Homo sapiens: one gene and its partners. The protein of the gene in region 1 purifies or fractionates together with the protein of each later gene. This does not show direct contact. Each region holds a gene or a part of one and is shown on either strand. Other genes may lie near its edges. The genes, in order: DLG1, LIN7A, APBA1, LIN7C, NUP50, ZMYM1 and KCNA5.

Region 1 (4,506 bases):
AATGATTAGTTGCCCTTTGATCCGTTTTGAAATACTATTTGTTTAAAAAAAAAAAAAGTAGGTAGCAACTCCCCAATATTCTTATTTTACTCGCCTTGTCCTTTAACTTCCTCCTCAAGTCTTTGGACATTTTTGTTGTTGTTACTTGTTTGTTTGAAATAATATCAGCCTAAATTTGACATTCACACTGAGTATCAGTAAGGGTCATGGTTTTTAAACCTTGTGCTTTCTTATTTTTTTCAAACTAATTTCAGACTTAAATAGAAGTTACAAGAATAGTACAGGGAGTTTCATGTACCCTTCACCCAAATTCCTCAAGTGTTAACATTTTACCACATTTATAGGTTTTTTTCTGATACACTTGAGAGTAAGTTTCAGGTAGATGTCCCTTTACTTCTAAATATTTCAGTGTGTATTTTCTAAAAAACAGGGATATTCCCTTATAGAATCATAGTTTTATTATCAAAATCAGGAAATTTAATAATTATATGTCTCATCTAACTATAGATCTTATTAGTATTTCACTATTCTTCTAATCTCTTTAGAGCAAAATGGAAAAAAATGGTTTTTCTGTTCTGGTGCAGGATCCAGCGGAGGCTCACGTGCTGTATTGGATTATCACATCCTTAATGTTCTTTAATCTGAAATCGTTCCCAAGTCTTGTTATTCATGACCCTGACTGACATTTTTTAAGAGTAAAAACACTAGGGGGGATTTTTTGTTGTTTTTTGTTTCGTTTTGTTTTTTGTTTCGTTTTGTTTTTTGTCTTTTGTTTTTTTTTGAGCCAGGGTCTCACTCTGTCACCCAGGCTGGAGTGCAATGGTGCGATCTCAGTTCACTGGAACCTCCACCTCCCAGGCTCAAGTGATCCTCCCACCTCAGCCTCCCAAGGAGCTGGGACTACAGGCTACAGCCAACATGCCCAGCTAATTTTTGTATTTTTTGTAGAGACAGGATTTCGCCATGTTGCCCAGGCTGGTCTCAAACTCATCCAATCCGCCCACCTTCACCTTGACCTCCCAAAGTGGTGGGACTACAGGCGTGAGCCACTGCACCCGGCCAAAGACCCATTCTTTTATAAAATGTCCCTCCCTCAATTTGGATTTATCTGATGTTTTCTCATAATTCGATTTAGGTTCTGCATTTGGGGCAGGAATAGCAATGAAGTAATGATGTGTCCTCTGTGTATCATGCAAGGAGGTTTACAAAGTCTACTTGTGCCGTTACTTATGATGCTAATTTTAATCACATGGTTAAGGTGTCTGCAGCCTTATGCTTTCCCAGTTTCCCTGGTTTACTAACCATTCCATTAATGAATTTACAAAGTAAGCAAAATGTATATTTCCCAAGTCAGTTCCTGACTGTTTTCTCCTAAAATAAATCCTTGCGTGCTGTTGTCAACCTAAACTATGAAATGCTCTAAAATAAATCCTTGCGTGCTGTTGTCAACCTAAACTATGAAATGCTCTGGGATTCTGTCCTGTGCTGTTGGGGTGCATCAAGATGCCAAACCCACGAACCAAGTATTTTGTCAAATGAACTGAGTCTTCAGGGACATTGAGGCATGTCTGCATTTAGCTCAAAAGGTAGAAGTCTCACAAAACTGATACTAGCGAATATCATGTTACTGAAAATTCTTGGTTATTCAGGCGTTCCTAGCTATGTATAAGTGCTTCCTACCTACATACAACGTCTTTCTTCTATGCACATCATCTCAGGTACCAAATAGACAGTATTATTTAAAATCCCCCTTTGACATTTTATGCTCAGTTTTTCAGACCATGGAAATCTACACCTATGATGCTCTTCCAAGATCACTGGGCATTTTTTTGTAGTTTAGTAAGTGACTTATTTAATTTGCAATTCTCAATTATTTCATTTATATGTAAACTTTTTTACGAGACACAAGGTTCCACTCTGTCACCCAGGCAAATGGTACAATCCAATGGTACGATCATAGCTCACTGCAGTTGTGAACTCCTGGGCTCAAGAGATCATCCTCCTGTCTCAGCCTCCCAAGTAGCCAGGATTACAGACACACACCACCATGCCCAGCTATTTTTTTTTTTTTTTAAATACACAGGGTCTCACTATGTTCCCCAGGCTGATCTCAAACTCCTAGCCTCAAGCAACCCTCCCACTTCAGCCTCCCAAAGTGCTAGGATTGCAGGCATGAGCCACCATGCCCAACCATAAACATTTTCTTTCTTTCTTAAAAAGTTAGTTACTCATGCTTAGTGCTGTCTAGCGATACTTTGTTTTTGTTTGTTTGTTTGCTTTATTAACTAATCCCTCACAGACCTCAGGGGCTTCAGCTATTCCCAAAGAATTAGTTGTTAGTAATTGTTACTCTTTTTTTCACACATTATTTCAGACAGCAAATAAACATTGATTGTTAAGTCTCTAACCACTAACAAGCTAGCTTAGGTATCTCTCAATTCACCTACACTACAGTACCTGACATGCTAGCTTAACTGAAAAAAGTAGTATCAATCTGTAATCAGCTCTTTTCCCCCAAGATCCTACCCCAAAAAAAAAAAAAATTATCCTTACATCATCCTGTCTATGGGATTGTACCCAGTTTCCTTTTTTCTACATATGTTTATGGAGAAATCAGGAAAGTTAAGAAAATAATTTGTTTTAAAATAATAAAGCTAATATATGCTCAGATGGTAAAAGAACAAAAGAAAAGATCTCCAAGTCTTACTTTTTGATCCATTTTTAAGATAAAAATTTTATACTATATAAATAGGAAAATTAATGAAGTGAGCCTTTTTTCCTAAGTGAACAGTGTGTAAATGGTGATTCTTCCTGGATGAGTAACTTTTTCAAAGATACTAGCTTCTACTATTTCATCAATAATTGTAATGGCAAAAATAGACAATTAATGGAGATTTCTGATTTTGTTTCTATCATTACAGCTATTGTACAGGGGGATACGCTGGAAGACATTTACAACCAAGTGAAACAGATCATAGAAGAACAATCTGGTTCTTACATCTGGGTTCCGGCAAAAGAAAAGCTATGAAAACTCATGTTTCTCTGTTTCTCTTTTCCACAATTCCATTTTCTTTGGCATCTCTTTGCCCTTTCCTCTGGAGTCTTTCTTGAGTACTGATTTCATGTTGAATTGTATCCCACACATCATGGTCTGCAGCTTCTTTTTCACATGTAGTGTCTCCTTCAAGTTACATCGTGTGTATTATTTAATGTCACTATTGGTTAGTGGCCATTTTTCAGAACTGAAGATGGAATGGCCTGACCAGCTATTAAGAACGTGGGGAGACGCAGAAATTGTGGTAAAATTCCTTAATGTTTAAGGGAAAGTAACTTTAAGAGATTTTTGGAAAAGCTTTATATACATTCTTTTCAAATTTCAGTACAAATGAAAAAGTGGTTTTAATCAGTGATTTAGTAGACTTTGAGCAACTGTGCACGCTTCAGTTTAATAGCATGGTTTGGCCAGTGTATTACTCTCAAGTCCTTTTCTCAATCAACTTCTATCATCAAAGCAATTGTTTCATTATAGATAAATAAGGACATTTTTTAATTTAAAAATTCATGTCTGAGTTGACTTTCATAAGGGATTTCATTTTTTCCTCAACATTCTTAAAGCCTTTTAGTATTTGACGGTTCTTTTTTCCCAGGACATTTGCTAGGAATAACAACGTTTCAATGTTTTTAATCTACTTGAGCAACACTATCGTGTCTTACAAAAGTTGTTCATATGTAAATGATCATCACATTTCGTGAATTGAGGCCATGTTCAGGTGCTAAGGAAGTTCGCCTTTTACACAGAAGATTGAGAAAATTTCCTAGATATAAATACAGATAAATCAGACGTTACAGTGGTGACGTAGTAACCATCATGGCAATGGAAAGGAGTCCAATTCATAGCCTAAAACTTCAAATGTATTCTTAGGAGTCAGATTTTACTGAATATTTTACCCACAATAGCTGCCTATTTTGTTATAATAAAATATATATAAATATATATATAAAACTTTCTTTAAACTGTAACTATGGGAATTATTTTCTTTACATAGTTGCGCACACACACAAACATATATATATATTTAAAATATATTTTGTTTCTTTTGCCACCTACTCCTAACTTTTTGTTTGGTTTTTAAATTAAATATTAATTGAATAGACTTATCTTCCTTAATCATGTGAACTGAAAATGGGGGCATGGTGGTCATGAGGAGGAAACATTTAGGGAAATTAGATTATAAGTAAAAGTGTGGGCATATTCTCCTCTTTTCTACAAAGGTTTTCAAATGGTTCCTGAGGTTTTTTGTTGTTGTCCGTGTTGTTACTGTTGTTCTTGTCATCAGGTTTGATTTTGGTCCTTGCCCTTTCCTTCTAGTTCTCCTTTTATTAATAGGAAGGCAGGCAAAAGCCCCATTTATGTGTGTGTTTTCCCCTCAGACAGCTTTCATCCACTGCTCTGCACTAGAATTGCACAAATCTTCATGGTGAGCAATTTTAAGAAATGTTAGTGAA
Region 2 (4,506 bases), on another chromosome or scaffold:
TCCTGACCTCAGGTGATGCGCGTGCCTCAGCCTCCCAAAGTGCTGGAATGACAAGCAAGAGCCACTGCACCCAGCCTGTTTTTTATTTGATAATTAAAAGTTACAAAGAGAATGACTCAAATCTCTAAAGCATTTTGGTTACAAAAATAAGAAATTTGGTGAATCCTTTCTAGTTTGGTGTGTCATTCATCCGAGCCCTGAAATGTATTTGGTGTGCTCCTGTCAGTTATGAAATTAATGCTCTTGCTTATGAGTGTTGTTTTTCAGGGATCACAACTAAGGCCTAGCTCTTAAGTAGAGGAAAGAAAACATCTAGGGAGTACTATCAAACAGGAAGGTGTCCTGGGTATTAGAGATGGTGTTATATGCACAATGCCAGTATCTCTTTGAGTTCTTTTCTTAAAGTCATGACATTTGCCTGTTAGGATATACTTTCCATCAGGTCAGAGACCATGTCGGGTTTGTTTATGTAGAACCCAGCACATTGTGTGGCACATAGTTGGCACGCTCTTTGTATTTGTTGATTGAATGAGTGAATGAATGAATAAAATTGGCTTAGCAAGACTTAGCTGTCATGGATTATTCTTAATGCAACAAAACAAAACAAAACAAAAGCCTTCTAACCTAAAATAATGAAAAGTAGTGGCTACCTTAGGATGTCACTTTGCCTCTCTGTGTATGTAGCTGGCTCCTACAAGTGTAGTGCTCTCAAGGGCCAAGAAAGAATGTGAGGTGTTGGTTTTGATAGTCATAGCCCTGTTTCAGTTGTCTGCATTTACCCTGCTGTTTTAACTTATGAATTGAATCGCACGAGCTAATGTCAGAATACAACTGAAAAGGTTTTTTAAATGGGTGGAGTTGCTATAGAATTGCCCCCCTCCACACACATATATATAAGCTACGCTTTTCAATTTTTTTAACCATAAATACATGAATGACAGAACTATGTCCTAATAAACAAATTAAAATGGATTTAACTTGAACTCACTCTGCACTACCAAATGTGAACTTAACCTTAAAAATTGTGTTAATTTCATCCATGCCTTAGTTCTGGTTTATTCAATTGAGATCTTTAAAAAAAAAGATTGAATTTTGCTAAGTAATATACTAACTGAATTCAAACACTTGTCCAATAAAAATAAATATGCCTGAAAACCACTTGAAAAAAATCATGAGGGATTGAAACTTATTTTGTAGTTATATTCAAGTATCTACCTATCTTGGACATAAAGCTAGGGTGTCTAATTTCCATTGATGGTAATTTTCCTTAGAAACAATATAGCTAGTCCAAGTCTAACTGTTTGTGCAACTTTTGTTTACTTGCCCAGTGTGGAGATAGTTATATTTCAATATAACATCTTTTGTTTTTAAATTAATCAAAGGATTACCTTTAACTAAAAAAAGATAGAATAATGGGAGTCACAACATGGCTATAAGATTTAAACCCACAAGATAGATGGAGAAACATAGCATGAAATCACAGCTGGGTCTATTTAACAATAATGAAGAAAAAATTGGGGAATATAGTTGAGGGACTGCTGAAAGTGATTTTTGAGGAAAATTGGAGAAGAGCAGTAATTGCTGATGGACAAATAACCTGGCTTCCAAAAAGATGACAAAGGTGTTTTGGGAAACTATAGGGCAATCTATTTGTTGCCTCTTGGCCCATATATATATTTTAAAATATATATAAAATGTGTGTGTGTGTGTACATATATATATTTAAAAGAATGAGATATTGGCACTTAGAAAAGAAAGTGGTGATCCCAGAGGCTACGTGGAAAATCACTAAGAGTAGACATTGCAGAAGTTCAGACATATGTCATAGTCTCATTATATATTCATGACCCCACAACTCTCACAGACACCTTGTGGAAAATGTGGAAATACATAAAGTGGATGATTGCATTGTTGGATTTCTAGTAGAAACACTTCTCCAAGGAAGTTTGGTTCATGGTCTTGTTTGGCACTGTTACCAATATTTTGAATGAGCACCATAGAATATATTTTAACAAACTTTACAGGTGACTAAGCTAGGAGGAATAACAAATAATTTGGCCAACCCTACCAATATTCTAAAATTATTCCTAGCTTGAATGGCAGGTTACAATAAAAGAGATAAAATTTAGAGGAAATGAATGTAGCCTTCATTTATTAGATTGAATCAAATTAGAATGCTGATTGCATATTGATTGTACTGGTGTCTGACTGGAATAATCTGGTTTAAGAGTATTTTATTTGGAAAAGATTGAGGACTTTATTTATTAGGTTGGTGCAAAAGTAATTGAGGTTTTTGCCATTGAAGGTAATATCAAAGACTGCAATTACTTTTGCACCAACATAATAATAAATTCATCATGAGCAGTGTGATTAAATTATCAAAATATTATAAAAACTCTCTGGAAAATTAAATATAAAACTAGTTAATATTAATAATGTAGAAAAACACTAATACAGCATACCCTAGCAGGGATTATTTAAAAGATATTAGAATAACTGTATTGGTATATTAATCATGTTAATAATAAGTTTTAAAACATGATGAAAATTAAACTCAATACAATACAAAAATTAACTCAAGATGGATTAAAGACTTAAATGTAAGACCTAAAATCATAAAAAACCCTAGAAGAAAACCTAGGCAATACCATTCAGGGCATAGGCATGGGCAAAGACTTCATGACTAAAACACCAAAAGCAAATGGCAACAAAAGCCAAAATAGACAAATGGGATCTACTTAAACTAAAGAGCTCCTGAACAGCAAAAGAAACTATCATCAGAGAGAACAGGCAACCTACAGAATGGGAGAAAATTTTTGCAATCTACCCATCTGACAAAAGACTAATATCCAGAATCTACAAAGAAACAAATTTACAAGAAAAAAACAAACAACCCCATCAAAAAATGGGAAAAAGATATGAACAGACATTCCTCAAAAGAAGACATTTATGCAGCCAACAGACACGTGAATGTCATCACTGGTCATCAGAGAAATGCAAATCAAATCCACAATGGGATGCCATCTCACACCAGTTAGAATGGCGATCATTAAAAAGTCAGGAAACAGATGCTGGAGAGGATGTGGAGAAATAGGAACACTTTTACACTCTTGGTGGGAGTGTAAATTGGTTCAACCATTGTGGAAGACAGTGTGGCGATCCCTCAAGGATCTAGAACTAGAAATGCTATTTGACCCAGCGATCCCATTACTGAGTATATATCCAAAGGATTATAAATCATGCTACTATAAAGACACATGCACATGTATGTTTATTGCAGCACTATTCACAACAGCAAAGACTTGGAACCAACCCAAATGTCCATCAATGATAGACTGGATTAAGAAAATGTGGCACATATACACCATGGAATACTATGCAGCCATAAAAAAGGATGAGTTGATGTCCTTTGCAGGGACATGGATGAAGCTGGAAACCATCATTCTCAGCAAACTATCACAAGGACAGAAAACCAAACACCGCATATTCTCACTCATAGATGGGAATTGAACAATGAGAACACATGGACACAGGGTGGGGAACATCACACAGCCAGGCCTGTGGGGAGGTGGGGGGATGGGGAGGGATAGCTTGAGGAGAAATACCTAATGTAAATGACGAGTTGACGGGTGCAGCAAACCAACGTGGCACATGTATACCTATGTAACAAACCTGCACATTGTGCACATGTACCCTAGAACTTAAAGTATAATTTTAAAAAAATGATGAAAAACAAATTCACAGTTAGCAGTTTTTCTCAACTGAGACACCATTGGTAGTTAGGGCGCTAAGTTTATTTGTCATATAAGAGGTTTGGTATCCTTAGTTCCCAGGAGCTAAATGCCAGCTTGAATCACACTGTGTTAACTGAAAATACCCAATGAATTTCCACATTCCCTTTTTAAAGGCAGTTCTATCCCATCTAGTTGAGAACCATCAGTGTCCAAAAAAGTAGGATAGTTCAACCTTAGAAAATAATTTACTGTGGCCGGGCGTGGTGGCTCACGCCTGCAATCCCAGCACTTTGGGAGGCCAAGGCGGGCAGATCACGAGGTCAGGAGCTCCAGACCACGGTGAAACCCCGTCTCTGCTAAAAATACAAAAAATTAGCTGGGCGCGGTGGCGGGCGCCTGTAGTCCCAGCTACTCGGGAGGCTGAGGCAGGTGAATCGCCTGAAGCCGGAAGGCGGAGCTTGCAATGAGCCGAGATCACGCCACTGCACTCCAGCCTGGGCGACGGAGCGAGACTCCGTCTCAAAAAAAAAAAAAAAAAAAAAAAAGAAAAAGAAAAGAAAATAGTTTACTGTAACTCTTTACACTAACAGATTAAAGGAGAAAAACCATATCATTTTAGTATATATTGATAAAGGCATGTGATGAAAGATAACATTAATATCTGATTAAAAAACAACTTTTAGTAATCTCTAAGTAGAGGACTTCCTTAACTTGACAAACACTAGGCATGAAATGCCGCCAATGTCAATTTTTTTTTTTTTTTTTTTTTTTT
Region 3 (4,506 bases), on another chromosome or scaffold:
CCATCTGTGCTTCACCACTGGTAACGTGGAGACCCTCATCCTGTAGCCAGGATGCCACAGCACCCCTTCTTCATGTTTTGCAGGTGTCCCTGAGGAGGGGACTATTCTGCATGTGTCTTCCAGGTCATCCAACTTTTTTGTAGAGGAAGAGAGATTTTCTTCCATCAGCCGCTCTTCCTCTATTTGCCTCTGTCTTCCTCCAGAGGCACATGGGTCATCATCAAGGACATTTATTAGATGATGTCACTTCTTTCCTAAGCTTGCTTAGGATGCTCACTAGCTCATGAAATCCAGAACCCATAAGAACAGCAGCACTTAATATGAGTCACAAGGTGTTACAATTGTTGTCATTGTTTTAACTCTGGGCTGCTTTTGTATCTTGAGTATATTTCTATTTTGCACTTATCACCAGGTATCATAACTGTCAGAGCTGTCTGCCCTAAACCATAGTTTAGAAACTTTTACATCCCCTTTGCCTTGCACAGTGACTGGTACATGTCTGATAAATGCCCATTGGATTAACACACTCAGATGCAGGAGAATGTTGAATCATTTGCATTCTTTAGGCACTTAAAGCATTAGAAGAAGTTGAAGGAGTTTGCATGAGTGAATAAGGGCAGCAAAGATTTAAGATAGAAAGAAGAAATGAGTTCTTCTCCAAAGGCTGATCATGCCAATGTCTAGAAGTCTATAAGGCCCCAACTATTGGGTGGGAGGGGTGGGGGATAAAGATTTTTCCTTTTTCAGTTACTAAAAATTCCTTTACCACCTTCTGTATACCCTCTGTGCTTGGCATCAGAAAATCAAAGATACATGACAAAACATCTTTTTCTTAAGGACTTGATACTTACAAAGAATTACCACTCAGAATGATAGAAGCCATGATAAATTTTATATATATACACACACACATATATATATATATAATTTATATATGTGTGTGTGTGTGTGTGTATAAAATGGTGTGAGTATGTGTGAGACGGAGAGAGAAAGGGAAAGGGAGAGAGAGAAAAAGCACAGCGGGCACAAAGGGAGGCTTAGTTGGGCCTTATCAATCCCCTGCTTAAACTCCCCAGTAGCATGCCACCACACTTGAAATAAAATCCACATCCTTTACCATGATGTACCAGACCCTGCCCAACTCAGCCCCTTTCCATCTCTTTGTCCTCATCGCCCATCACACTGTCCCTTACTCACGCCACACCTGCCTACAAACATTATTTCTGTCCTTGAACACAGCTGATCCTTTCTCACCTCAAAGCCCTTGCCCTCAGATCTTCACAAGGCCACCTCTTTCTTGATTATTCAGACCTCAACTCAAATATCTCATTCTTTGAATAATATCTACATAATGTCCTCTCCTCAGTCATTTTCTATGGCGTTACTCTGTTTTGTATTACCTTCATAAAATGTTTCCCTATGAAGTTATCTTGTTTACTTACTTACATAATTATTGTCTGCCCTTTTTTCCCTCTGACCCCCGACCCAGTGCACTAGAATGGGGACTTCCTGAAAGCAGGGAAGCCTCCTCTGGCTTGCTCACTGTTCTGCCCCAGTGCCTCGAATGTGCCTGGAGGCTGGCACCTAATTAACATTCATCAAGTATGAATGTGGCCTGGGGAAGACAAGAAAGATTCACCAAAGAAAAGTTATAGGTTAAAATATGCCATGAATAGGGAGGGCAGTTAGGGCCAACACCAGGACTTTGGCTGTTAGAATGCAGGGTGCGGGATGAAGTGTGGAGATGGACTAAAGGGGTGAAGCATCCCAAGGTCTTTGTTGGCCAGGAATAGGACTCAAGAGCCCAGACCCCAGAGCTAGAGTGCAAAGATCAAATGTCAGGGGGCCTCCCTTACCAGATGTGTGACCTGGGACAATCACCTAACCTTTCTAATCACTTGTTTCTTCATTTTCAGAAGAGCTGATAATGGCAGTACTCTTCATTAGCTAGTGTGAAGGTTAAATGTGTCACGTGGAAAATGCCTAGTAGTACCTGGGACATAGTTAGCTAAGCATTTATACTGTGCCCTAGAAGGGAATCACTGAAGAGTTTGAGGAGTAGGGTTATGGGATTCAGATTTGTATTTTTTAAAGATCATCAGGCTGGCAGTGGGGAGGATGGACTGGAGGGGGCTGATAAATCAGAGTCAAGGAAACAACCAGGTAGTCAAGACAGACCAAGACAAAGCAGTGGCAGCAAGACTGATCCAAGAGTTATTAAGACAGTGGACTCTGGCATCAGTTTGAGGAGGGAGATAAGGGAAGGAGATGATTCAGTGGGTGGCTGGTGGTACCATTTGCCCATATGGGAAATACAGGAGGGAACCCAGTTTGAGAGCGAGGGTGGGTAGGGAAGGTGAGGAGGTGTGATTTCTTCAGCTGTGGCTGGCTGAGTTGAAGTGTTATGGGAACTCCAGGTGGAGCTTCCCAGAGAGAAAACCCCCACATCTTTCTGATCACAATATAACCCTAATATGATTAGCATTGTACTTATCAGTACCTAATAAATATTAGCGCTTAATATTTGGTGTTTAAAATTTTTGCTTTTGAAGAAAATACTGTGAGAAACATTTTTGTCCACATTCAAGTTTTTTCTTTTAGACTTCTATATGTAGAATTACTGGGGCAAAAGGTATGTTACCTTTTGAAGAATTTAATTCATCTTGCCAAATTGCTTTTCAAAAATTTTGTACCAATAATATACTCCCACAATAACCTAGGATTTTTAAAAAGCAGCTTAAATGTTTTTTATAAATACCACTCCCAAAGTTGCCAGCGTATGGAGAACAGTCCTCTTGTGTGTAGGGATAAACCTAAGCATCAACTTCGGCTCCTTCCTTAAAAGTTGACAATTGCCTTTTTGTCCTAGGGAAACCCCCAAAGTCAATGTCTGTTATTCATTAACATGTTGCAATACCACAACCCAAATCATATTCTTGGAAACATGATGGTGTGTAAAATACAAACACTGTATGTGTAAATACTCCCGTGAGGTCTGTGGATGGGGGTATAAGGAGAAGGTACTTAGTGAACAAAAAGATCTATTGTACCAAAACTACATTAACACTATCTTCCACCACCCCCTGCCCCACCAGAGAACTTCCTTTACCACAGTTTAGTGTATATACACGCAAGGAAGTTCCATTTCCTTTGAATCAATACATGGGTTATAAGAGGGCACCATTCACCGATTTTAACCCAGAATAAGCTAAAATTTCTTTTTAATACATATGTCAATAGATTTTCATCAAGCTAAAGAACAGCCATTTTCCCTGAAGGCAGCATTTTGGTCAGTTCCACATATGGTTATCATGAATTGTTGGTCATTCAGGTACTTTCTGTGGTTTTTGTTACTGTTTTTCTTACGCTGACCACACACAACTGTGACACCTCTGGGTAACAGAACCCAAGAAAGTCTGTGATATGTTTGCTATCCCTTTCTGTGAATGCTCACTTTGTGTTTATTAGAATTAGATTTGTACCTTAAGAACCCAATGTAGATTTAATGAAGGTTTATCTGTTGTCTTTTTGAGAAAGTCCTTATGAAGGCAACTTGGGTATGATGTTCTTGTCCATGTGTTGTATTGAATTGAATATTTGTTTTGTGTTTCTTATAATCCACTGGAGGCCCGTAGCAGCAACACTTGCTGCTTCTGTTTAGAGCAGGGGTCCCCAACCACTGGGCCATGGACCAGTATTGGAGCATGAACTCTATTGTGAACTGCACATGCAAAGGATCTAGGTCATGCACTCTTATGAAAATCTAACTAATGCCTCATGATCTGAGGTGGAACAGCTTCTAATCATTCCCCACCCCACCCTGCTGCTGGTTTACAGCCTTAACCATCCATCAAGGTTTGAAGGGAGATTCATACTTGCTTTTGGAGACTTTCTTATACTTAGTCCACAGTCGCTGTTCTCAGGAGTTAATGGGAGGAGCCCAAAATTTTTCAAAAGAGGTTGGGTCTAATTTGTATCAAGTGGGACTTATGTCAAGTAGCGAAGCAATAAAGATTGTTCATCTCTTGTAAACCGTGATTCTTTTCTTCTAGCGAGAATCAGTCAGGGGTGGATCCATCAAAGAATGGGGAAGACATGATACTTCTGCTTGAATGTGGACTTGGTAGCTCCAAAATGATCTCCTTTGTTATTGGGATGGTCATCAATGCTTGAAGGAAATTGCTGTGGTTGTGATGGGGAGTTGAGTAGAATATAATGCATCTCACTACTAGAGAGTCCATCAGATGTCCCTGGTCCTCCTGGGGTTGTCTGTTATCATATTTAAGAGTTCACTTCCCATCCATTGTGTCCATTTGTAAGAAAGGCTCTCCAAAAGAACATAATAGCAAGTTTACACATACTGTTGAGCCTATTTACCATAGGGATCTCAAAATCATAGGGGTCCTGCCTGTTTTGTTGTGGTTGTTTACATTCTTTGTGTCTATTTCTATATACTGCACAGATTATACCATAAAGCTATTTTGTGATAAGAAGAATTGAGAGAGA
Region 4 (3,858 bases), on another chromosome or scaffold:
TTAAAGACTGAAAGAGTTGGGGTTCATTTTCTGTTACAACTTACAGGAACATTTGTACTTTAAGAAAAATTTAAGTGACAAATGTTAGAAGATGATGGATTGAAAAATATAAGTAATTTGGCATATTGACCCTATATAAAAAAGTGGGCATTTTGTAACATTCCTTCAGGAAGAATAGAATTGTATGCTTTTTTCTGCATGTTTGTGATCACTGTGAGTCTCAGATGATTATTCCAGTTTTCAATGATTTTTCAAAATAAAAGTCAATCAGCATTGTTATTTATCATTAAGGTATTGAACACTGGATTGCATGGTTGAATGTGTCTTTAATCCACTACAAAATGTGCTTGTTATTGATAGGATCATGTTGTTAAATTGTAAATTTTCAAAATTAATTGATGTTTTAAAAATGTTGAGACCAAAGTAGTATAGAAGTATGGACTTAATTTAATTGTAAAATTATTAGAGGTATTTGTTGTAGAGCTTTATATATTAAAGAGAGGTATTGGTGCATATAAAAACAGTAATATTATTGTTATGCTTGTATTCTTGCATTTCAGGGTAAGTAAACCCTGAAGAAATCTTATTTTAGTATAGCTACAGCTGCAGTAGCTTTTAAGTATGTATCAACATTTCATTATAAATTATAGCTTCCTGGTTCTGTGTCTCAGCTGTTTCAGAACTTTCAGCCAAGTTAAATCTTTTTTGGTGTTGAAACTTTTAGTAAGTTGAGTAAGCTATTTTTTTCCCTACGGTAATCCACAATCTGTTCTTTGTGTGGGTTGACACCTATTTATAATTCTTAAAATAAGGGTAGCTCAAAGGAGCCAAGTACAGTAGTTTAGCTTGCTACTGTTGAGCATGAATAGCAGTAGGTTGTTTTCATTAATGCAGTTTTCATAATGTATCCCAGAATTTTAAATCTTGACCATAGAAAAATACAGTCATTCATTGGCAAAGATGTACAGTGGTGGTTTAGTGCAGTGAGGAAATGATGGGAATTTTTATCTTAGAAATGGATGATTCGTGAATAAAACTAGGTACATAGTAAGTGTATGATAGATGTTTGATTTGTAAATTACAAATATAAATTATCACCCCCATTTCCATTTATTTTCTTGATATATCAAAATGTGTTGACTTAGTGATTCTCAATCTTAGCTACATATTAGCCTGGCAGAGCTTTAAAAAATTGATACCTGGGTCCTATTCCATAACAACTAAATCAAAATCACCCTTTTTTTTTTTTTTGTAAAGCTTTCCAGGTGGTTCTAAAGGACACCTAGGGTCAATAACCCATTATAAAATGATCTGATTACACTGGACACTCTTAGGAAGTATCAAAATAGAACAGTTCAATTTGCAGCTACTTAATGATTAATTACATTTCTTAGGTTTTTTTTTTGTTTTTTTTTTGGTTTGTTTGTTTTTTGTTTTAAAAGAGACAGGATCTTGCTTTGTCTCCCAGGCTGGAACACAGTGGTGTGATCATAGCTCACTGCAGCCTGAAACTCCTTGGCTTCCACCTCAGCCTCCCAAAGCATTAGGATTATAGGCGTGAGCCACTGCACCTGGCCAAGTAATTTCTTTTAGGAATAAAAGGTACTTGGCATTCCTTATTTGGGAAGTAATTACAGTCTTATCTTTTTTTTTCTTTTTTCTTTTTTTTAATAAAATCTACCAGTAATTTAAATGTGAGCTTTTTATGTCTGTCATCATTCTGCCCCCTTTGCCTTTAAAACTTACAAAAATACGTGTTTGTTATTTGAGAAAGCATGTTTAAAAATTGCAGATGAGAAATATTGTCGTTAATAATTATGTACTGTCTTAATGTGGGCACTTCATTTGTTAGTATAATACTAGATAATAGCAGCCTAGTTCTTTAGGATTTGACGATTCAAATTTTTTTTTTGTTTTTTGTTTTTGTTTTTTTTTGAGACAGAGTCTTGCTCTGTTGCCCAGGCTGGCGTGCAGTGGTGTGATCTCGGCTCACTTCAGCCTCCGCCACCTCAAGGCAGTTCAAGCAATTCTCCTGCCTCAGCCTCCCGAGTAGCTAGGACTACAGGCGTGTGCCACCTCTCCCGGCTAATTTTTTTGTATTTTTAGTAGAGACGGGGTTTCACCGTGTTAGCCAGGATGATCTCGATCTCCTGACCTCGTGATTCGCCCGCCTCGGCCTCCCAAAGTGCTGGAATTACTGGCGTGAGCCACCATGCCCAGCCTCAAATATGTTTTTAAAAAATATCATTGTCCTCCTCCTCTTAAGATTTTTTTAAGTTATTTTGCTCAAGTACTTAAGTAGTCTGGCTCAAGTACTTTGTTTACAATTAAAATGGATATTATAGCATTTAATAGAAGAAATGGTTATGGCTTATCCAAAAAGAATGTCAGCATGACCTGGTGTAGACTTAAAAAACTACATGTTTGTGAATATTTTATAATGTGGAATGATCATTGAAATATCAAGGATTCTAGTAATTGTATTTCCTGAATAAATGTATGTTTATGAATTTTCTAACTTACATTTTGTTGTGTCCTCTGCCAACAATCTGGTTTTATAATTGTTGTCTAAAGTTTGCTAGTAGTGTTTCTTCAAAGGTTATTCCAGGTATGGTTAAGTAGTGAGAAAAATCACTTATTAATTTTCAAGAACTTTGAGACTAATTTGTATTGACTCGGTTTTTTAAAATAACTGGCAAATGCTATGCTTCTACTTTTAAAATTTGTGGTAATACCCAGAATGGATGTAAAATAACATTTTTCAATAGATTACTTCATTTATCAATTTAATTCTGATTTTAAGGCTTATTTAAAATAAATTTGTATGAGTTATGTCCTCGTTCTTTGGATTTGAAAAAAGTTGATATAACTACACAATAGATAACGTTTATGAAAGGTATGTATAAAAAAACATAATTCCTGGTGGCTGCTGAAATGAAACTTTGAATTTCTATATTTTGCTTTGTCTTTCATAAAATTTAAAGAAAACATTTTCTTGTGTTATTTCAAGAGCGGCAGTATGACGTGATTGAGAGCACAGATTCTGAAGCCAAACAACTCTGGTTTCAATCCCAGTTCCACCATTACCGTGTGTCACCTTAGACAGGTTGCTTGATTTCTTTGTGCCTTAGTTCCCTCACCTGTCATTTGTTAATAAGAATGCCTGTAAGTGTCATGCCATTTTCTGTAAGGCCCTTAAAAAGGTGCCTGGCATAGTAAATACTGTTTGTGTTTGCTTTTGTTCATGTAAAATAGCTTCAGAACCTTATGAGCTAAAGGAAATAATTCTGGTCAAAAAATTAAAATTAGCAAGTTTTTATTTTTGGTATTTAGAAAACAACCTTTATGCTTAAAAACTTTAGAAGAATAAGATTCATAAGAAATTATCAAATTTATATTTTGATCAAAGAAACTCGGAATTTTTAAATTGGAGCTTTGAGGATTGAAGCCATATTCTAATGAAAATCATTGGAAAATAAGTCCAAGTAAGGATTTGTTAAATTAACCTTTAAGGTGATGACCTAGGCATAGAGACAGGAGACTACTGGACTAGGTGTTAGACAGTCCAAGGCATCACCACCATTAACTTTAAAAAAGTGTGGAAATGTGCCACACAGCCGAGGAACAACAAAAAGCATTTAGTGTTAGGACTCAGTTTTTTTCAAAACTTTAGTAGACCAGAGTATCCATTCACTAAATTTTTCTATTCGGGTTTTGTTATATTCACTATTTTGATTATTCTGATTTTACTATAATGAATTGCTGACCCATATTTTGTACGTTTACTTATTAGTGGCAGATAATCTCCCTGATGGAATCTTGAAGATTTACTTTATATACAGGGCAAAAGGTAAATTC
Region 5 (4,506 bases), on another chromosome or scaffold:
GGGATTACAGGCGTGAGGCACTTCGCTGGCCCCACAGTTAATCTTAAATAGCAAACGTGACCGTTGGTGACTTCTTACTTCTCCAACCCTCTGGTGGAGACATTAGTTAATGAGTAGGAAAATTGCCAAAAAGAATCCGTACAGAGACCTGGTTTCTGCACAGTAAAGAATTATGTCTATTCCTGTATTTGTTTTTGTTTGTATGACAAAGATTAATGGCAAAACTTAACCAAGTGTTTTTGGGTGGACATTAAAAAGAGAGGGTTCCCAGCGAATGGAAAGTGTATTTATTTCTCATCCTTTATATTTTAGAATCTTGGACTTTAATATCATTTGTAATCAGAAAAATAGCATAAACTTACAAAATTTAAAAATCACTAAAATGTATTAAAAGCTGACAGCCCGTATGTAATTACTCCACTGGCCATCAAATTGTAGAGGCCTTTGGAATACCAGCATTTGCATTTTACTTTTAGATACTAAAGAGTGATATGTCACCTCATATCTTAGCGACCACTTTGTGGGGTTGTAATACACTCTGTATTACACAATACACCAGAATAAGGAAGCTTACTCTGGTGTATTGTGGTGTTGAGAGCAAACAAGAGTGGGGAGAGTATCACGAAGGAGTTCAGGCAGGTTTAACAAGACCTGGCAGGTCCCCAAAACTAATCAGTAAGTTTTTGGGCGAGGTGGGTAGCAGGGGAAATGGAAAGGTTTTTTGTCCAGCTGGAGAGTTAGTGAAGAAGGCAGCACAACACTCATAGCGGAGCTCTGGGTTGTGGGTTTTCTTTGTTTTGTTGTTATGATATTAAGATCAGAAAACAAATCGTAAATTTTAAGGGATGGACAGGAGCACCCTCTTTGGTTAGGTGCCGGAATCCACTGCAGAGTTCACGCCGTTCCCCAACTCCTGCCCCTTCCACTAATGCCATCGTATTGAAGAGTTAAGCCAATGATTTGTTTTTGAAAGGTTATAAGTTCCCAGAATACTAACACACCCATGTTAATCATTTTGGACTTCTAATTGTCTTGGCAATATACAATTTGAAGCAACAAAATGTTCAGTCTTGGGAACCATGTATCTCTGTCGGCTGTAGCTTAAAGAACAGTATTCGTGTTGTGGAGGCGTTTCCAGCCCGTTATTCGTATTCTTACTGAAAGATACACTTCTTTAATGGGTCATCTTTAAGAGAATTTTAAATATTAAAATTATTTTCTTTATGACAAGACTTTCAGTATGTATATGCGTAGAATAAGTTAAGGACTTTTTGATTATATATACAGTACTTCAGATTCCAGATTTTTAAAAAATCAATTGATATTTCATTTTAATTTTTCCAAATGGAGTCGGTTTAGTGTTGTTCAGGACTGCTGGTGTTCCCTAGGAATCTTCTTCTGCCTCCTGGAAAAAGCCTTTATTGATTTGTAACACTGGGAGCCTAACAGCACCAATGTAAAGTTCTCATTAAAGCAGTTTCCAGATGCTTTTTTTCCCTGATAAAAAAACCAGAGATGTTTTTATCTCACTTCATGCTAGAGTGAATTTTTAAAATTCTTTATAAGAATTTATTCTTCTAGAAAAATAAACTCTTCTGTTTTCTATAACTTAGGTTCGAAAACATGGCCAAAAGAAATGCCGAGAAGGAACTGACAGATAGGAATTGGGATCAAGAAGATGAAGCTGAAGAGGTAAAAAGCAGCTTCCCTAAGAATGATTTCCTGTTTCTTTTGCCTTTTACATTCATTTTGGGGTTCCTCATGAAGACTTGTGACAGAACTAAAAGACCTTTCTAAGAACATCATGAATGGGAGATGACAAGAAATTATATGACCTGTACTTAGTGTAGATATTTATTAATTACATTTCTGTGACCTCTAGTTAGTGTAGAAATGTATTAATTACATTTAGATGTGCTTTTCCACTAGTGCCTGCTCCTTAAATATTCTCCTTAGTAGAAGCACTTTTCCTCCTGAGTTTCGTATACTTGAAGCATTCTGAACCCATGTTTGCAGTAAGCCATTTTAGTCATGACTGAAGGCTGAGTTAAGTGATGTAGTCATGAACTTAGCACACTGCCCAGATGTGAAAGTGGTACACCATCACCATCTTGGTCTGTGGTACTCCGTTTCCCTAATGCTTCTTGGAGGCCTGCTTTATTTCCTTTTCTTAATGGTAGACCTGAGACCCCTAACAATTGCATTTATAGGAATAGAATTGAGATTGGCCTAGTTCCTTTTCCAGCAGAATAAAAATGGTCTCCCCTGAGGAAATCTGATCATTTTTCCCTTATAAACAGTAGGACTGGGCAGCATAGAGAGATCCCGGTCTCTATAAAAAAAATTTTTTTTTTTTTTTTTTTTTGAGACAGAGTCTCACCCTGTTGCCCAGGCTGGAGTGCGGTGGCACAACCTCGGCTCACTGCAACTTTTATCTCCCGGGTTCAAGTGATTCTCCTGCCTCAGCCTCCCGAGTAGCTGGGATTACAGGTGTACACCACCACACCCAGCTAATTTTTGTATTTTTAGTAGAGACAGGGATTCACCATGTTGGTCAGACTGGTCTCAAACTCCTGACCTCAAGTGATCCACCCGCCTTGGCCTCCCAAAGTGCTGGGATTACAGGCGAGAACCACCGCACCCAACCCCCCAAAAAATTGTTTTAATTAGCTGAACATGGTGGCATGAGCCTATAGTCACAGCAATTTGGGAAGCTGAGGCGGGAGGTTTGCTTGAGCCCAGGAGTTCAAGGCTGCTGTGACCTGTGATTGCACCACTGCACTCCAGCCTGGGCAACAGGGTGAGACCCTGTCTAAAAAACAAAGAATAAAACACAGCTGTACTTATAGGATGTGGGCGAAGGATTACCCAGGTGCCGAGGCAAGAGACTGAAGGCACAAACTGTTTCAGTATAATACATAAAATAGTTAGAATAAGAATAGTCATAATACAAATTAGATACAGAGATGATCACGGGCATTATCAATCATTAGTATAAACATTACTAGTCATTAGCTTTTAATATTACTCTTTGTTGTACTACTAATATAACCAAGGAATAACCGGCAGATACAGGGTCAGGTGCTGAAGGGACATTGTGAGAAGTGACCTAGAAGGCAAGAGGTGAGCCAGCCCTCTGTCACGCCCGCATAAGGGCCGCTTGAGGGCTCCTTGGTCAAGTGGTAACGCCAGTGCCTGGGAAGGCACCTGTTACTTAGTAGACCGTGAAAGGGAGTCTCCTTTACTTGGAGGAGTCAGGGAACACTCTGCTCCACCACCTTCTTGTGGGAGATTGGATATTGTCCAGGCTTGCCAGTAGTCATCCAGAGGCTTGAACCCCTCCCTGTGGTGCTGTGCTTCAGTGGTCACACTCCTTGTCCACATTCATGCTCCTCCCGTAGTCCTGGTTCCTCTTTGAAGTTCTTAGTAGATAGCAGTAGAAGAAATAGTGAAAGTTTTAAAGTCTTTGATCTTTCTGATAAGTGCATAGAAGAAAATGCTGACGTACGCCGCCTTCCTTCTCTGCTTCAGCTACCTAAAAGGGAAGGGCCCCTGTCCCATGATCACGTGACTTGCTTGACCTTGTCAATCCCCTGGACGACTCATCCTCCTCACCCTGCTCCCTTGTCTTGTATGCAATAAATATCAGCACGCCCAGCCATTCAGGGCCACTGCCGGTCTCCGTGTCTTGGTGGTAGTAGTCCCCCAGGCCCAGCTGTTTTCTCTTTATCTCTTTGTCTTGTGTCTTTATTTCTTACAATCTCTGTTTCCCCCTTCGAGGAGAACACCCGCAAAGCCCAGTAGGGCTGGACTCTACAGTCGTACCTTATCAGCAGTGTGTTACCCCCAGGCCAGATGACTAAGGAAATCTGTAACCACGACTTTCAGGTTAACAGCATAGTGCTAAGTGAAAAAAGAAAAATGTTAAAACTGCAACTGTTTCCAAGCTTATTCTTAGACGGCCATCTTCCTTCTTTTGGAATCTTTCTGGTACTAGTACTTTTTTTCTCTACAAGTGTATCTCCTCACATATGTTTAGGGAAACCAGAATCCCAAGGATGTGAGTGTTTTGACAGGGTCAAAACTGATTTGGTGCTTTTTAACTAAAATCTTTGGTTATGGGGGTTTTTGGTTTTTTGTTGTTGTTGGTTTAAGATCTTAAGCACAGTTACATTCTGGGCTATAGTAACATCTAGATTACCATGTAACTATTTGCTTAGACATTAAAATATTCAGGAATGAAAGAACTCCCATTCGAACATATGCCAATGAAATGTGTGGAAAGATTACATTTAGTTAAGTACATTTAACTTGGGGCAAGTGCAGCCAGATGGTCCCCTCTATGAGTGTAGGAGCCCGTTAAGTTTAATATGATCTGAAACAACTATAGGTGAGAATTTTTGCATGAGAAATATTTTATTCCGACCCTACAGGGTAAAAGAAGGGCTATAAACTAAAGCCGAAGATATTCAGCAGCTTTCTGACGTGGACATCAGAAGTGTGGAC
Region 6 (3,993 bases), on another chromosome or scaffold:
GCTCCTCCTCAGCATCGGTAGACATCTTCCCAAGTTAATTCCCAAGCTACCATTGAGGACAGATCTATAACTATATAAGGCCTTTGTTTATCCAGTAGGCTTTGACTGCCTGAAATGAACTTCTGTGACCACTTTCTTCATTGCTTTTTTTTTTTTCCCTTGAAAAGGAGTTTCACTCTTGTTGCCCAGGCTGGAGTGCAGTGTCACAATCTCAGCTCACTGCAACCTCTGCCACCCAGGTTCAAGTGATTCTCCTGCCTCAGCCTCCTGAGTAACTGTGATTACAGGCGCTCGCCACTACACCTAGCTAATTTTTTGTATTTTTAGTAGAGACGGGATTTCACTATGTTGGCCAGGCTGGTCTCGAACTCCTGACCTCAGGTGATCTGCCTGCTTTGGCCTCCCAAAGTGCTGGGATTACATGCATGAGCCACTGCACCTGGCCTTACTGCTTTCATAGGTATTATTATTATTGCTGTTAAATATATCTGATAAATAATAAAAATCATTTTCAGATTTGCCAATATTCTTTTAGTTATTGCAATCTGTAGTGTCTTTTTAAGAAAATGTAAAAACTGTCTTAATTGTTATTCTTTTTAATATTCCAACTAAAAGCAGTGGTAATAGGTTCTTCTTCATTAACAACATATCATATACCAGGAATATGAATATTATTTTAATCTCTAAACAGAAACCTGCCAAACCACTTATATCTGTTCCTTGCAAACCATTGAAGCCCTCAGATGAAATGATTGAGACTACGAGTGATTTGGGGAAGACAGAGCTTTTCTGCTCTATTAATTGTTTCTCTGCATACAGTAAAGCTAAGATGGAATCTTCTTCAGGTAATGTTTGTTTAGCAATTGTAGGGGTTTAGTAATTATTAATAAATAATATTATTTGACTTTAATTTATAACCTTGATTCATTTTCAAATTAAACCGACTTTTAAAAGTCAAAACAATCTAAACTTGTTGCAAAGAACTGTTTTTCAGTATTTTTGTATAAAAGGAAGGCTACTTTACCACCAGAGATTTAATATTTGTAGGCCAAGCACGGTGGCTCATGCCTGTATTCCCAGCACTTTGGGAGGCCAAAGTGGGCAGATCGCCTGAGGTCAGGAGTTTGAGACCAGCCTGGGCAACATGTTGAAACCCCGTCTCTACTAAAAATACAAAAAAAATTAGCTGGGCGTGTTGGTGGGTCCCTGTAGTCCCAGCTACTTAGGAGGCTGAGACAGGAGAATCATTTGAACCTGGGTGGTGGAGGTTGCAGTGAGCCGAGATCGCACCATTGCACTCCAGTCTGGGTGACAGAGTGAGACTCCATCTCAAAAATAATAATAATAAAAATTAAAAGATACATGTCTTTTTTTAGATTATTTAGTAAATGAATATATGTATGTTTACATCAATATATATTGAGCACCTACTGCAAAACATGGTACATAGGAGGCACTTGGTCAATATAGAGTTTAATACATTTACAAGACTGCTTTTATTAGAATATAGAATGTTTTACTTAGCCCTGTTTTGTAAAAACAAGTTTTCATTACATTTTTCACATGAAATAGAAGTGATTGTAAATGCTTTAAGACTCAATAATAAAAAAGCACAAATAATCTGAGCCAACTAAGTATTCCATCAAAAAGCCTCATGTAGGACCAGTGGTGCTATTTACATAGACCATAGAGTGACTAATGCCTCTGGGATTTGTAAGTCATACAAACTGGCTTGTTACAGAAATTTCTGCAATAGTGGCTTGGGCACCAACCTAGCGCTCCATTGATGTTAAGGTTTATGAATCCTGGAAGAGTTTGAAATAGATGCCCATTAGGAGATTCAATCAGAATCTCTTTTCTTCATGAGTAATTTCACAGAAAAATTTGCTCATAATTTTAAACAAATTCTTTAAAAGGACTGGGAAATTGTGTACAAAGGTAAAAGACATAAAATGTTGGAGAAGTGTAAATTTTCAGTGTAATGTTGTAATTATAAATACGATACTAAAGAACCTGGCTATTCCTAAGCCCTAATAAAAATTACTTCAGTACCTACCAATTCCTTAAGCTATTAGATGCTTGCATTATTTCTTTAAACAGTATTACTAAACAGTACTTTCTGATGATTGATTTTGCCTTGTTTATAAGAAATCTTTTTATTGTTGTCAGTAAGTGTTGTTTCTGTGGTGCATGATACTTCAACAGAGCTTCTTTCTCCAAAGAAAGATACGACTCCAGTTATAAGCAATATAGTGTCATTGGCAGACACCGATGTTGCCTTGCCCATCATGAACACTGATGTCTTACAAGGTAAAAGTTGATGTTAAGATATTTGACATAAATATTGTTTTGTCATACTTGATAAATCTGTCTATATGCTAAATTTTCTTTTTGTTTCTTATATGAAATAAGCAAATATAGTTTATGATGCTATTTTATAGGTTATAGTATATAAGATCTTGAATTTATGCTCTATTTTAACAGATACAGTTTCTTCAGTAACAGCAACAGCAGATGTCATTGTGGATGTAAGTTTTAACTTTTTTTACCACTGTCTTTTTTTAATAAGCAGATTTTTGTTGTTGTTGTTGTTGAGACAGAGTCTCGCTCTGCCACCCAAGCTGGAGTGCAGTGGCGTGATCTCAGCTCACTGCAACCTTTGCCTCCTGGGTTCAAGCGATTCTCCTGCCTCAGCCTCCTGAGTAGCTGGGATTACCAGCGCCTGCTACCATGCCCAGTTAATTTTTGTATTTTTAGTAGAGAAGGGGTTTCACCATGTTGGCCAACCTGGTCTCGAACTGCTGGCCTCAGGTGATCCGCCCACCTTGGCCTCCCAAAGTGCTGGGATTACAGGCATGAGCCACCACACCTGGCCCAGATTTTTTATATATATATATAATATATACTATAATATATAAAAATATAAATATATAATATAAATATATTATAATATATTGTATATAATATAAATATATTATAATGTATATTTATTATATATTATATTTATATATTTAATATATATTTTATGTATTATGTATTCATATATGGGGTGTGTGTGTATGTTTGTAGATTGTTTAAACAGAAGTATTTTTTTCCTCTGGGTTCTTCTTTTAAAAAAATACTACACAATTTGAGTCATCTGAGCAATAAAAATTATTTTTATGACAATTACATACCAAAAGGTCCTTCAAACATTTAATGCTGAATCTAGATTGCAAATAAATAAGTTATACGTAATTGTTAACGTTTCCCCCTAGTGGAGCTCATACTGTAACTCAGCCATTTATTTTACTATGTTATTAGAGTAGATATATTTGATATTTTAATTAATTTTTGAAAACTGTTAAATGTTCTTTTCTCATTTTCTCCCAAAGCTTTCTAAGAGTTCACCTAGTGAACCCAGTAATGCTGTTGCTAGTAGTAGTACGGAACAGCCAAGCGTTTCACCATCTTCATCAGTATTCAGTCAGCATGCAATTGGTTCCAGTACAGAAGTACAAAAAGACAATATGAAATCTATGAAAATAAGTGATGAACTATGTCACCCAAAATGTACATCCAAAGTACAAAAAGTTAAAGGTAAATCACGAAGTATTAAAAAATCTTGTTGTGCAGATTTTGAGTGTTTGGAAAACAGTAAAAAAGATGTGGCATTCTGTTATTCATGCCAGTTGTTCTGCCAAAAATATTTTAGCTGTGGAAGAGAGTCATTTGCAACCCACGGAACTTCTAATTGGAAAAAAACCCTGGAAAAATTCAGAAAGCATGAAAAAAGTGAAATGCATTTGAAGTCATTGGAATTTTGGAGAGAATACCAATTTTGTGATGGAGCTGTCAGTGACGATTTATCTATTCATTCGAAACAGATTGAGGGAAATAAAAAGTACCTAAAGCTTATAATTGAAAATATTTTATTTCTTGGAAAGCAGTGTTTACCCTTAAGAGGAAACGACCAGTCAGTTTCATCTGTGAATAAAGGCAATTTTTTAGAAT
Region 7 (5,287 bases), on another chromosome or scaffold:
TTTCTTTAAGGGAGATTTGAGCAGTATACCTCCATGGCTACCACATGTGACATCTGAAGGTAATTTTGCCAGAAACCTATAAGAACTGGCAAATGCATGGGAAACAGATTTAAGGAAATACCACATTAAAGGAGGCCTGGGTTTTGTGCTTTTCCTGGACTGTTTATGTTGTACTCTTATTCTTCAGGGAACAATCTCCCAGAAAGCCCCTGAAAGACAAGCTCCAGAGAATTCTTTCCTCTGGGGAGCCCGAGGAGAACCCAGGTGAACCAATGTAGCATCCTTATATTTACAAGATGCATGAATCAGTAGACAAGACTGTCATGGGTCTCTGACCTCACTGTCTGCAAGCTCAGTAAGTCCCAGGCTCCCCAGGAAAAATACCTGATCCTGACTGGCAACCTCAGAGCCAGAGAAGAATGAAAGCCCACTGGAGATGAAGCAGGGATGGCACAGATATGGGGAAAGGGGATGCAAGGCCCTGTGGTTAACCAGTGATGCCTTCACATACTGATTTTCATGTTCATACCCTTCCTCACTCATGCACGTCTGCAAAGACAGCCAACAATATGCACAGTCACACAGAATGAAAATACTTACGCACACCAAATTCACATCCACCTTCACATATAAACTCTTAAAAAGCCATATGCACACATACTTCTCAAACCTTGACCCAAGTTTGTGTGTCTATGCGCTGCTATTGCAACACACACTTGTGCACCCAGGACCAAGTTTCCAAATCACACCCTTTGGATAGAGACATTCATTGACAAGAGGTCCTAACTTCACGCATATAAATCTGAAGCAATATGCAGAAACAAAAATAGACAATGAAAACAGACATTCAAAAACACAGCCACTTTATGATAATTTAAAACCAAGAAACTTCTGGAGACTGTGTCTGGCAGTTCCAGACACACACCTTGAAACAGATTCCTCTTGGTTACCAATGCCTGCTAAAACCCTGCAGGGGTTGAGACAGGGCAGGGGAAGATTTCCTAGTGTCCCAACCTAGAAAGATTAATATGTTATATCAGCCATCATCCTGCCTTCTGCAGCAGGGAACTAAAGTTCTCAGGCCAGATGTTGGAGTGAGGGAGTGCTTGTATCAGGAAAAGGGATTATGCATTTCTATAGAGGAGTGAAATATAGGGGACAAGGGCCAAACTCTGATTGTTTGAGTTTGAGTTCCAGCATCATCAGTTTCCACCTGCATAAGCCTGGGTGAGTCTGTCAATCTCTCTGTGCCTCAGTTTCTTCATTTATAAAATGGTGATGATAATAGTACTTACAAAATAGGTTGCTGTAGGAATACACAGAGACAATATTTGTAAAGTGCTGAGAGTGGGCTGGTGCATAATGAGAGCCAAGTAAGTATTGGTTGTTATTATTCCATTCTTGGGAATGCTCCAGCCTTGGAGATTGGACAACCTCCCTGGCTCCCTCTCATAAGCCACCTCCACCCTCAGTCTCCTTCATGGACCTAGATGCAGTTGCTCGGTCCAAGATTCACCAGGCAGGATTAGCCCTCACCAGGATTGTAAAAATCGCTTCTCCCCTTCCCTGCTGTGGTTTTTGCAAATGGGATTCGTTGGAGCGGGTGGAGGGGTTCTGCTGGGTTGAGACCAGACAGCTCATCTCCTGACTAGGCTGCTTGCCTGGGCTGCCACCAGGTCTGTACTGGAAACAGGCTAGGGCATGGGAATCCTGCAGGGTTCCAACCCCCTTGTACATTTTTGTGGATCTGTAGGAAGACGGGAAGAGAGATGCTTCTCCATTGATACATGTATTTCAAGGTCCGTAACTACGTGGCCCCCCTCCCTTCTGTAATCCTTCCCAAAGAAATACCGTTATTTCTCCAAAATAAAAAGGACTGGTGTCTCCCGTCTCTGTCTCTCATACTCCGACTCAGCTCAAAGCCTCGTCCCTTTAGCCCAAGGCACTTCGTTCCTCCTGGAGTCCACTCGGCTTCCAGCGGGTTCCCAGGTGAACTGAAATCCAGAGCTATTCTCATCTGGTTGCCCTGGGAATTTCAGCGCTGTCGGTACAACCTGTTCCTCCATCCTCCCCACTCCTTCCCTCCCTCCGCTGGGCTGCACCCTTCTCAGCCCCTCCTTTCCCTTGCTAGGGGCCCCAGCTGCGCCCTCCGGGGAGACACCCGCTGCCACGAGACCCGGGAGGGGAAGCGGGAGGAGGGGGAGAGGAGGGGAAGGCGGGGGAGGCGCCGAGGGTGGAGGCCAAGCGCGGCGCAGCCAGAGAGGGGCGGCTGAAGGTTGCATCTGCTGGAAGGAGGCTTTTCGGCTGCTTGGTAACGGGCTGCCAGAAGAGAGAGAGGCAGAGAGCAGGGCAGCGGCTTCTTGACGTCAGGGCCAAGCGAGGGGATCGCGCCAGCAACCCCAGCTCTCCCCAGAGAGGGGCCGGCCGACCGCTGGAGCGGAGCCTGACGCCAGGCGCCCGCGGAGCGTGAGTAGGGGGCGCGGGAGCCGGTCAGCTGGGGCGCAGCATGCCCTCTGCTCCCGCGCCATGGAGATCGCCCTGGTGCCCCTGGAGAACGGCGGTGCCATGACCGTCAGAGGAGGCGATGAGGCCCGGGCAGGCTGCGGCCAGGCCACAGGGGGAGAGCTCCAGTGTCCCCCGACGGCTGGGCTCAGCGATGGGCCCAAGGAGCCGGCGCCAAAGGGGCGCGGCGCGCAGAGAGACGCGGACTCGGGAGTGCGGCCCTTGCCTCCGCTGCCGGACCCGGGAGTGCGGCCCTTGCCTCCGCTGCCAGAGGAGCTGCCACGGCCTCGACGGCCGCCTCCCGAGGACGAGGAGGAAGAAGGCGATCCCGGCCTGGGCACGGTGGAGGACCAGGCTCTGGGCACGGCGTCCCTGCACCACCAGCGCGTCCACATCAACATCTCCGGGCTGCGCTTTGAGACGCAGCTGGGCACCCTGGCGCAGTTCCCCAACACACTCCTGGGGGACCCCGCCAAGCGCCTGCGCTACTTCGACCCCCTGAGGAACGAGTACTTCTTCGACCGCAACCGGCCCAGCTTCGACGGTATCCTCTACTACTACCAGTCCGGGGGCCGCCTGCGGAGGCCGGTCAACGTCTCCCTGGACGTGTTCGCGGACGAGATACGCTTCTACCAGCTGGGGGACGAGGCCATGGAGCGCTTCCGCGAGGATGAGGGCTTCATTAAAGAAGAGGAGAAGCCCCTGCCCCGCAACGAGTTCCAGCGCCAGGTGTGGCTTATCTTCGAGTATCCGGAGAGCTCTGGGTCCGCGCGGGCCATCGCCATCGTCTCGGTCTTGGTTATCCTCATCTCCATCATCACCTTCTGCTTGGAGACCCTGCCTGAGTTCAGGGATGAACGTGAGCTGCTCCGCCACCCTCCGGCGCCCCACCAGCCTCCCGCGCCCGCCCCTGGGGCCAACGGCAGCGGGGTCATGGCCCCGCCCTCTGGCCCTACGGTGGCACCGCTCCTGCCCAGGACCCTGGCCGACCCCTTCTTCATCGTGGAGACCACGTGCGTCATCTGGTTCACCTTCGAGCTGCTCGTGCGCTTCTTCGCCTGCCCCAGCAAGGCAGGGTTCTCCCGGAACATCATGAACATCATCGATGTGGTGGCCATCTTCCCCTACTTCATCACCCTGGGCACCGAACTGGCAGAGCAGCAGCCAGGGGGTGGAGGAGGCGGCCAGAATGGGCAGCAGGCCATGTCCCTGGCCATCCTCCGAGTCATCCGCCTGGTCCGGGTGTTCCGCATCTTCAAGCTCTCCCGCCACTCCAAGGGGCTGCAGATCCTGGGCAAGACCTTGCAGGCCTCCATGAGGGAGCTGGGGCTGCTCATCTTCTTCCTCTTCATCGGGGTCATCCTCTTCTCCAGTGCCGTCTACTTCGCAGAGGCTGACAACCAGGGAACCCATTTCTCTAGCATCCCTGACGCCTTCTGGTGGGCAGTGGTCACCATGACCACTGTGGGCTACGGGGACATGAGGCCCATCACTGTTGGGGGCAAGATCGTGGGCTCGCTGTGTGCCATCGCCGGGGTCCTCACCATTGCCCTGCCTGTGCCCGTCATCGTCTCCAACTTCAACTACTTCTACCACCGGGAAACGGATCACGAGGAGCCGGCAGTCCTTAAGGAAGAGCAGGGCACTCAGAGCCAGGGGCCGGGGCTGGACAGAGGAGTCCAGCGGAAGGTCAGCGGGAGCAGGGGATCCTTCTGCAAGGCTGGGGGGACCCTGGAGAATGCAGACAGTGCCCGAAGGGGCAGCTGCCCCCTAGAGAAGTGTAACGTCAAGGCCAAGAGCAACGTGGACTTGCGGAGGTCCCTTTATGCCCTCTGCCTGGACACCAGCCGGGAAACAGATTTGTGAAAGGAGATTCAGGCAGACTGGTGGCAGTGGAGTAGGGAATGGGAGGCTTGCTGAACATGGATATCTACATTATACCGCAGAGTATTTGAAGTCACACTGTAACCTCAGTCTACCCCTCTCCTTTCACTCCTTTCCTCCCTCCCTCGATCCCCCCATTTTCTCTATTCTTTCCATGACACCCAAGGGTCGCCTATTTTTAAAAAGTACCACATTCCATGACGCAGGAGCTGTGGAAATGGTGAGCGCTGTGAGATGGATGTATTTGTAGCCAGTCTCCTATACCCAGCAGAGGGATAACCCAAACAAAAATGACTCTAAATAGCCCAGATCCCAAGAGATTATGTAACTCCTCCATCCATGTGTTCCAAATTTGCTTTACATATGATTGTATTTGTGTATAGGGGAAAATATTATTTTTATGCCTGGTAAGTGGCTTTTTGTACTGTAGTTCAGATAGAGATATTTTGGGTATATTTTCAAGATACATGTTGTATTTATGGAAGAAAGAGTTGTCCTGATGTTTTTCTGTGTTACTTATATTAGAGTCAGAGATCTTGGTATGGGCTGTTCTGTTTCCTGTGTCTCCAAGCCTCTGTCTTTTCTGGGATGTGGTATTGGTGCTTTGTGTCTAGGGCAGAGTATGTTCTTGAAGAAAGGCAAATCTGACTTTTTCTGTGCGCCTTAAACAATTCTTGTAACTTTCTTCAAAAAGCATTTTAATGATATTGGAGGAATACTTCTGATAATTTATTGTCTTTATTTTTATCCCAGGAAATAAAAGGTTACCTTGTTGAGGCAAGTGTTAGTTTTTCTGCAGCTGATACATTTTCTGAAATTTTTAAAAATAGTCTGTCACTGGCTGTTTCTGGTTTTGACATCAGAGCAAACGCATTGACTGGGGTTAGAGGAAATCTGAAAA

What was found.
Region 2: the proteins of DLG1 (region 1) and LIN7A purify together in Homo sapiens (affinity purification with western blotting; 2 studies listed by BioGRID and IntAct, with this or other methods). This does not show direct contact.
Region 3: the proteins of DLG1 (region 1) and APBA1 purify together in Homo sapiens (affinity purification with western blotting; 2 studies listed by BioGRID and IntAct, with this or other methods). This does not show direct contact.
Region 4: the proteins of DLG1 (region 1) and LIN7C purify together in Homo sapiens (affinity purification with mass spectrometry; 6 studies listed by BioGRID and IntAct, with this or other methods). This does not show direct contact.
Region 5: the proteins of DLG1 (region 1) and NUP50 fractionate together in Homo sapiens (co-fractionation; one large-scale study listed by BioGRID). This does not show direct contact.
Region 6: the proteins of DLG1 (region 1) and ZMYM1 purify together in Homo sapiens (co-immunoprecipitation; one large-scale study listed by IntAct). This does not show direct contact.
Region 7: the proteins of DLG1 (region 1) and KCNA5 purify together in Homo sapiens (affinity purification with western blotting; 2 studies listed by BioGRID). This does not show direct contact.

The regions. Positions count from the first base shown.
Region 1 is NC_000003.12:197,043,145-197,047,650, reverse strand, and holds part of DLG1 (disks large homolog 1), read left to right. Parts: intron 1-2,921; coding exon 2,922-3,028; 3' UTR 3,029-4,506. UniProt on the Homo sapiens protein: Essential multidomain scaffolding protein required for normal development. Recruits channels, receptors and signaling molecules to discrete plasma membrane domains in polarized cells.
Region 2 is NC_000012.12:80,926,929-80,931,434, reverse strand, and holds part of LIN7A (protein lin-7 homolog A), read left to right. Parts: intron 1-4,506. UniProt on the Homo sapiens protein: Plays a role in establishing and maintaining the asymmetric distribution of channels and receptors at the plasma membrane of polarized cells.
Region 3 is NC_000009.12:69,518,517-69,523,022, reverse strand, and holds part of APBA1 (amyloid-beta A4 precursor protein-binding family A member 1), read left to right. Parts: intron 1-4,506. UniProt on the Homo sapiens protein: Putative function in synaptic vesicle exocytosis by binding to Munc18-1, an essential component of the synaptic vesicle exocytotic machinery. May modulate processing of the amyloid-beta precursor protein (APP) and hence formation of APP-beta.
Region 4 is NC_000011.10:27,493,550-27,497,407, reverse strand, and holds the end of LIN7C (protein lin-7 homolog C), read left to right. Parts: 3' UTR 1-2,990; downstream 2,991-3,858. UniProt on the Homo sapiens protein: Plays a role in establishing and maintaining the asymmetric distribution of channels and receptors at the plasma membrane of polarized cells.
Region 5 is NC_000022.11:45,166,555-45,171,060, forward strand, and holds part of NUP50 (nuclear pore complex protein Nup50), read left to right. Parts: intron 1-1,611; exon of another isoform or gene 1,612-1,613; 5' UTR 1,614-1,623; coding exon 1,624-1,692; intron 1,693-4,433; exon of another isoform or gene 4,434-4,506. UniProt on the Homo sapiens protein: Component of the nuclear pore complex that has a direct role in nuclear protein import. Actively displaces NLSs from importin-alpha, and facilitates disassembly of the importin-alpha:beta-cargo complex and importin recycling.
Region 6 is NC_000001.11:35,109,603-35,113,595, forward strand, and holds part of ZMYM1 (zinc finger MYM-type protein 1), read left to right. Parts: intron 1-691; coding exon 692-845; intron 846-2,169; coding exon 2,170-2,310; intron 2,311-2,484; coding exon 2,485-2,528; intron 2,529-3,374; coding exon 3,375-3,993.
Region 7 is NC_000012.12:5,041,622-5,046,908, forward strand, and holds KCNA5 (potassium voltage-gated channel subfamily A member 5), read left to right. Parts: upstream 1-2,257; 5' UTR 2,258-2,526; coding exon 2,527-4,368; 3' UTR 4,369-5,167; downstream 5,168-5,287. UniProt on the Homo sapiens protein: Voltage-gated potassium channel that mediates transmembrane potassium transport in excitable membranes. Forms tetrameric potassium-selective channels through which potassium ions pass in accordance with their electrochemical gradient.